Regions from separate parts of the Homo sapiens genome. Here region 1 is linked to region 2. The links come from fine-mapping of genetic effects on gene expression. Tissue or cell type: spinal cord. Region 2 holds a variant in brackets; the other region holds the start of a gene. All regions are shown on one strand. Distances are from middle to middle.

Evidence for each region. PIP is the estimated chance that this variant, and not a neighbour inherited with it, causes the effect.
Region 1: NTM starts here. The variant in region 2 is fine-mapped to the expression of NTM in spinal cord (GTEx, PIP above 0.99).

The regions. Positions count from the first base shown.
Region 1 is chr11:131,368,212-131,372,455 of GRCh38, reverse strand. It overlaps NTM (neurotrimin), which reads right to left and starts at 1,841. Exons shown (of 9, transcript NM_001352005.2): 1 at 1,568-1,841. The coding sequence starts at 1,649.
Region 2 is chr11:131,276,987-131,281,230 of GRCh38, reverse strand. No RefSeq gene overlaps it. Among named protein-coding and RNA genes, the nearest start is that of NTM, 92 kb to the left of the region's middle. The variant C/T (reference allele first, on the strand shown) is at 2,413.

The DNA of each region.
Region 1 (4,244 bases), 91 kb before region 2:
ACACACACACACTGATACTGCTTCATATTATATAAGAGGAGTCAATCGAGGATGCCTCCAAGTTGATTCCCTTCACTCAAACACCCACCAAAGCCCCTAGGGGACAGCAGGGAATCCTGAGGCCCATGCCTCCTGGGGTTGGGTGCAGCAGACGACATCATGGACATCCCTGCAAGATTCACCACCTTGGACTTCCTTATCACCCGACACAGATCCCTCCTGTCCCCACCCCTTGCCTTCTTCATCGAGCCCCAGTCAAGGGTGTACACATTTGATCCTTCCAGCCTGGTCTCTCTGCCCACCTTACGTGGATCCACACTGCAGCCACTGCAACCTATGTCAAGAGGACAGCAGCAATCCCTAAATCCTAACCTCGGAGAAGAGCCAGCAGGACTACAGCTCAGGACTCAGTCCAGATCAGGAGAACTCCATATTGCAGGGGGAGAAGAGGGCGAGGGGGTGGGACTCCCCATCGTTTTTCACCGGGTCAGAGGGAACTTTCCTCTGGGAATACAACTGCATAGGACTGAGCCTCACCTCCCAAGAGAGGGCTCCTCCTCCCGGAGCCCTGCTGGGCCACCCTGGGAAAGTTTCTCAGCTTGTCTCGATCCTTACGAGTTTTAGCTGTGTTTAATATAAAAGAGGCAAACTAGTTACCCCAAAGGACAGGGCAGGTGGGAGCAAGAAGATTAGTGGATAATTCTGTTGCTGGAACGAACAGACGTGAGAGCCGGGATGGGGTGTGGGGAGGCACGGTGCAGCAAATGGACTCAAGGTGGAGGCCGATTCCAAATGCACAGAACACAGCACTGGGGACATCAAAGCTTGCACTCAACTGCAGCCCCCAGGGCTCCCGGCTCAGCCGATAAATAAACAGAAAATTAGCATTCGACTCTTATTGCCTCTCTCCCTTCAACTTCGAAAAGCTTTTTAGAATTTCAGAGCCCCGGCTCCCCTCGCTTCCACACCTCCGACCCCAGCCACAAACACACCCCCGAACACATTTAAAACTAATACAGTTGTCCCCCACTGCTGCAAATTGACTCATCCCTTGCAGCTGGATCGCTGACCAGAACCTCACAGGAAGCACCTGATTCTTTCTAGCCTGCATTTTCCCCTTTGCTCCTTTTAAAAGCTTTGCAAGTTCGCTGGCCGATATTTAAAGTTTCCTCTTGTAATTTCTTCCCAGTCGCATAAGCAACACATTAGCAACCCTGTTGCCCTCCGAATCTGTCATTTCCCCCTGCTTACATGTGTGCTCCGTTGTGTATGTGTGCAAGAATGTGCATGAAGCCAGGGAGCCTTGCACACAAGCACAGTCCTAACAGGAGCACCAAACACATTTTACTTATGCACATACATATTCCCCCATTCCGGTAGCAGCCAGAATCAAATCAATATTCTCACAGCCTAGTCGGGAGAATGAAGTCCCAGCCATGCTGTCTAAACGCTCTCTCCTCCACCTGCAAACAGCGCAGCACAGCCGACTCGGGGAGTCTGCAAATCTTATAAAGCACACTGTACAATTCCTGGGTCTACCGAAGGCAAATCAATAGCAAGCTCTTACCTTGGAAGAGACACAGAGCAGCCAGCCCCGTGAAGATTGCCCAAGAGATAGAATTGTGCATTTTTGGCTGGATGGTTTTCATGATTTTTTTTCTTCTTCTTTTTCTTCTTTTTTGTCAGGTTCGGTTTTTTTCTTTCTTTCTTTCCTGATAGATTGTGTTGCTCTCAAGCTTGTGCAAGGAGATTTAAATCCACTGTTTTGCTGAAGGACACAACAAGAAAGCCGAGGGTGTGAGAGAGTATGACTTCTCCGTAATTATCTCCACTCATACTCTGGCACTGAGACACATTGTACAATCTGGCCCTGGACAGCCCTCCTACAAGCTGCAATCATTGGTTCTAATCCAAGGATTGACAGAGCTACAACACACGCGCGCGGGCACACACACACACACACACGCACACACACTCTCAGGAATCATTTACTGGGCAAATCAGGCTAGCTGATTAAAGAGACAGGAGCCTGGAGAGATAGAATGATAAATGCCACTTTGCCCCTTCTATATTACTTTCATTTTTTAAACTGACAGTCTCTGAGTCTTCTGAGTATCAGAAAATCCCTTTCCCCCTGGCATTCCCTGGCCTCCTGAACTCAGATTCCCTTTGCACTGGAAAAATCCCATAGCCAGCCATGGCTTATGGGAAATTTTAAAGGGACATTTTCATGCTCAGTGAAACTTGTAAAGATGAGGCAATTTTCATTTGTTGGTACCTATTTTCCCCTCCAATGGAAATATCATTCAGTGACAGCTTTTTTTTCTCTCTTTCATCAACCTTTCTACTTAGTTGCTTTGAAAATAGTAAATAACTTTCTATTTTCTCCTCCTGTCACTTCTGTTTCAGAACATCTATGTTACTCCTCTTTTTCATTCACTTTTTAGAAGTCAATTTCCTAAATTCATCCATGTGTATATGATACAATGGAAAGGTACAAAGTACCTGGTATTTGAGAAGAAGCTCTATAGTCTGAAGATGGAGAACCTTCTTCAAAAGAAAACAAAGCAGGAGTTTATTCCCCATGACTTGGTCAATCCACATCCACTAAAGCAATCATAGAAGCATCTGTGATTTAAACTGCAGCGAGAAAGATTCAGGGTAGACATGCGGAGGGGCTTTCTGAGTGTAAACTTTGTGTAGTTCCTCAGACAGTTGAAGACATTAACCTCCTTGGTGATAGGAAAGAATAAAAACCGAACAGAAATAATCTAATGGACATAAATGATTTCTTAAGAGGTCTAATTCTAGGGCCTGGAAGTTTATTCTAATCTTTGGCTTCCCCTTATGAGAAGCAAGTTAGAGGATGTGAACAAAAAATCTAGAAAATGTAGCTCCTGGCTGGGCACTGTGGCTCACGCCTGTAATCCCACAACTTTGGGAGGCCAAGGAAGGCCAGTAGCCTGAGCTCAGGAATTCGAGACCAGCCTGGGCAACATGGTGAAACCCTATCTCTACTAAAAAATTCCTTAAAAATATCTGGGTTTGGTGGTGCGCACCCGTGGTTCCAGCCACTTGGGTGGCTGAGGCAGGAGAATTGCTTGAGCCTGGGAGGCGGAGATCACAGTAAGCCAAGATGGCGCCACTACAATCCAGTCTGGGTGACAGAGCCAGCCCCTGTCTCAAGAAAAAAAAAAAAAAAAAAGAAAAGAAAAAGAAAATGTAGTTTCTCACAGAACCTTCCTTAGCTAATTCTGACACATTCATACCCCTACTATGCCTTGACACACATTTTAAAAATATTCTTCTAGAACTCCACCGCTAATTATTATACTTCCTTGTAACCCCATAAAAATGTTCATGTATTTTCAAACTGCATAGAAGAAAAGTACTCATTGTCTGTTTGTATTTTAGTGTACAGAGGTGAAATGAAAACATCACTGCCATTTTGCACATGTCTAAGACGTACGATTTACCTTGGCTTTTTTCTTTTTTCTTTCTTTTTTGTTTTTGTTTTTGACAGACTCTTGCCCCGTCACCCAGGTTGGAGTGCAGTGGTGCAATCACAGCTCACCGCAACTTTGAACTCCTGGGCTCAAGGAACCCTCCTGCCTTACCCACTATGCCCAGCTATTTTTTTTTTTTTTTTAATTTTCTACAACATAGTAGAGATGAAGTCTCACTATGTTGCTCAGGCTGGTTTCAAACTCCTTGCCTCAAGCAGTCCTTCCAGCCTTGGCCTCCCACAAGTTTACCTTGTGTTGTGTATGAATAGGGACAACACTGCCTGGAATGTGGGATCTTGTGACCTTGAGAGGAAGGGGCCCTGGGACCTCAAGATCTGGGGACCTCAAGATCCTTCTCATAGTTCTGCACAACTAAGGGACCTCAGGCAGGTCCTTTCACCTCTGTGAACCTTGGCTTCTTGTCTATAAAATTGTAGAACTGGAATAATTTATTATACTCCTTCTCATTTTAAAGATGTTTTATGTTAACTGGTATTTTTTTTCTTCTTGCCATTAAGTTCTAATTCACATATCTATCAAAATGTCCTTGATATCGTGAGCTCCCAATGGACAAGAATTTTATCTGTAGATGAGTCTTTTTGTGCGGTGCTCAGCATAGTGACATGTGTAATTAAATGCTTTGGAACAACTGTGACGGCAGGTGATAACAGTGCAGTGCAGAAGGAAGGTGGCTTCCTTTCACCACCATTTCATTTCTCTCCAGAACGATGATAAAGA
Region 2 (4,244 bases):
GCTGAAAGACATAATAAACACTACTAATAATAACAGCATAACAGTAGCAGCGGCAGCTTTTAAAAGAAAATGGCTGAAACAACATAAATTTGACTTTAATTAGTTAAGAGGGATATTACAGAGCACTGGTAGCCAACATTCTCTAGAGACATTATTATCACTAAGATGATGACCAGGCTGCAGGGACAAATATGAAGCCCCAGGAGAAACCTGTACAAGATAGGACCAACTCTGAGACTTTGCCTGTAGTTGTCCATAGCTGCAGGAATCTGCTAATCCCTTTGTGAGATAGCATCACACCTGTATTATAAATATTTCAATCATTTATATACGTGACTAGGTTAACTATTTAATAAAACTCTGTCTAATTTAACCATAATCCCTGTAAGTTTTTCTAAATTAATTCTTTAGTATTTAAATTCCCTATTATATAATGAAGTTATTGCTGGGTTACATGGCTTTGGTATCCAAGCAGGATCAACTTCAAGTCATCCTAACAATTCTCCTCTCCCCAACAAAATACTACAACTTACTGATCTTAACTTGTGTATCAGTTAGCTTTTGCTGCCTAACAAATTGCCCCCAACCTGTGGCTTTGAACAACAAACATTTCTTATTTTTCATGAATGCTGGTAGGGTGCCTGGACAGTTTTGGGCAGTTTGTCTGGAATGGCTTGGTTGATCACTGTGACCGGCTGGTGGCTCAAACGAGGCCATGTGTTCTAGGATGCCTTCCCTCATTTGGTGGTTGGGGAAGTCTGCTGGGGCAATAAAGGTGACTTGTTCCTATGTCTCACATTATCCACAGGTTAGCCTGAGCTCCTTCTCATGGTGGTGTTCCCAGGATCCACCAGAGCAGCCAAAAAGGGCAAACCACAAAACATGAGAAATGTTCAGGCTGTTGGGTATGCCCGATTTGCTATTGTCTTATCAGCCATCAGAAATTGCATGGGCAGACCCAGAGTCAGTGTGGGAGGGGATTAACCAAGGAAAGTTATCACTGTGTTTTTGTAAATAGTACACTACAACTGGGTGTTGCCAGGCACTGCTGCTATTCCACTGGCATAGCTGCCACCACACTGCAACTCAATTATGACAGCCTCAATAACCAATCCGTATGAATTTTCAACAACAGCTTATGTATACCATCTTCAACTTTCCATGTCAGAGAATGCTGTCACCCCAATATAACACAGGGTGACTGCTACAAATGTATGAAAATTCCAGTCACTTTAGTACAGCCCCTTTACCTATTAACAGGGCTCTTCTTTTTGGTTACATAAAATTTGATTATGTGAAAACTTACATCCAAAGTCTTCCTTTCTGCTTCAGGCCCTTTGATGACTCAGCAGTATGTGGCTAATACACATAAGGGAAGAACAACTTAATATGCAAAATTCCAAACTTATAAAACAGATAAATCAGAAAGTAGAGAGTGATTCATCCCATCACAATAGAATTATTCGCTCTTACATCAGGAGTCTTTAAAATAGCCAACTCCCCTAGGGCCTCTAAAATAAAACTCATCTCCAAACTTACTTTACTAATAGATTCTCAGGACTACACCTTGACATAGGGTAAGTTGTGACTGATGATTCTCTCACTGGATTCAACTTGACTGAAGGGGCAGTAAAGAACTAGGTCCTAGGCCTGGCACGGTGGCTCACGCCTGTAATCCCAGCACTTTGGGAGGCTCAGACGGGCGGATCACGAGGTCAAGAGATCGAGACCATCCTGGCTGACAGGGTGAAACCCCGTCTCTACTAAAAATACAAAAATTAGCCAGGCGTGGTGGCGGGCGCCTGTAGTCCCAGCTACTCGGGAGGATGAGGCAGGAGAATGGTGTGAACCTGGGAGGCGGAGCTCGCAGTGAGCCAAGATCGCACTGCTGCACTCCAGCCTGGGCAACAGAGTAAGACTCCATCTCCCAAAAAAAGAAAAAAAGAACTAGGTCCTCCTTGGAAGAGAAGACAAACCAAAGCAGCAATATTATGTCCAGAGAACATTAAAAAAAAAACACACACACACCATTACATGATTTCAAACATATGAACATCTCATCTCACACCCTCTGTGGAACTGAACCTACGTCCCTTCCCAAAGGGGGAGAACCGAGTTCAACCATCAGCCTTCAGTTGGGACATGGTATGTAGGAGGGCGATGCCGGCCTGGTAGACCAGGGGCAGCGCTGGGGTGAGCACCCCGCATCGCCCAGGGCACTAGCCCAAGGGACCAGCCACCACAGAGAACCTATATCTTTCTACCCTGCTCTCTTTCCAACTTTGCCACATGTAATGTCCCTTGCTTGACTGACACAGCCCTTAAAGAGCAGGCACCTCCATTCCCATGTTGTGTGTTCAAGTATGGCAATGCAGGAGGCAGGGAATCCATTAAGGAAAAGAATAGCAGGGC[C/T]TTGTCCTCTATCCCGCAGCTGCTTCTCATTGGCGCTGCCCCCCACCCCCCCTGCCCCCCGTTCCATTCCACTGGGGCTGTTGTGAGCCAGCAAGTTACGTAACATCCCATAGAAAGCTCCTATTTAAAACTCTGATAGGTGACAGCCTGTTTGACAAACAGGCTTCAGTCTGTCAAGCCAGCATCTCCAAAGCATCTGCATTTTCCGGGCTGCTGTTTTCTTGCTTATAGTCCATCAGGGCTGCACTGGGCTATTCAGGCCCTTCCCAGGGATGGAAGCCGCTGTGTCTCAGCAAGGGGCTGTCAAATTGTCCCACTTTCCCTGCCTAGTTCATATAGGGGTATCCATATTTATATTGATCTAGGCACATGAATGGCATGCCATGCTAGGCAGCAACTTGGCGGAGATAATCCAAAACACTCTGCACTCACTTGAAATTTAAATTCACCCACAAAATGCATAGGTTTAGCCTGGTCACTGATGTCATTGGTTTCTCCACTATAAGCAGAAATTGCCTCAGTGACTGAATATGTGTGAGTGGTATGTGTGTGTGTGCGCGTGTGTGTATGTATAGTCTGTCTTCACGTTAATTATTTAAAAGTTCTGTCCATTGTCCAGTTTTCCAATTTCCCCCTACAGTTTCCCTATAAATTAAGTGATTATAGCTCTTGTTGTTAACACATCACCTTAGAGCTGTCATCTAGCACACATTCGGATGCAACCCCCCAATCCTGACGGTGGTCAGAACAAAACAGGATGGGGAAGAGGGGAGGCATATTACCATCCAGGACTATTGCAGGGGTTGCTACCTGGCTCCTTCCTGCCCTCCACATTTGTCAGTTACCTTTGGGATGTACTTGCCTCCTCTGGTCCTTGTCATTTTCCCCTAGTGTCTTTTGTTGATATCCACCATTCCAGAATGTTCTGTGAGATCCAGGAGCAAACACTGTGCATCCTCTCTGTTTTAGGCACAGGCTACTCCAGTTCTACCTACTCTCTCATCCCTTAGTGCCTTGCTGCAGGCTCAGGACCTCCCAGTTGCTCTTTTGGCACTGGACCATGCTGCCTGTATGCTGTGAAGCTGCCCCTGGGCCCATCTGTCTAGCACCTCTCTCAATGCAGACTAACCTGCAGCTAAGGCAGCCCCTGCCCAAGTACACCTGCAGCTGGGAAGGAAGGTAGAAGCCTCTCTGTCGTCCTCATATTAAGCTTATCTTCTTGGATATTCCACCCACCCTTGATCCTAGGATGGGATGGAGGGGAGGGGTCCTATTTCCTGATGTCGTAGCTTTGACATTGTCTTCATATTCACTTCCACACCTCTCTGGAAACCATTGCAACTGGAAAGGGTCACCTCTTCTGGTTGTGTGGAACCTAAATTTTTCTCTCTCATGCATTTTCCACCCAGCTGCTGGTGTGGCACATATTTTATGCCCTGAGCCTTTTCTTCTCTCTGAAGCCCAGCACTTGCAAATCAAAAACTTTCAAGACCATTGTTTCTGCTGCACATTAAATTATATATTTAATAACACAGAAATTTATACTTTTCAGTATTTATCTAAACTCCCCCAAGGACAGTGCTTACAGAAAGCTAACGCCTAAATCTTGGCAAGAAGGGTCATAGGCACATGAAAACTGGATCTTCTGGGGTCGGGGGAAGAAGAAAGAGTTTATACCTAAAATTTGTATTTACCACATTCTTATGAAAAACCTGCACTCATTTTCCTTCAGCATAAATAACCCTTGGTTTACATATGCTTAGTTATTTACTACCATTACCCACTGTATTTGTTTGTTCTCACGCTGCTAATGAAGACATACCCAAGACTGG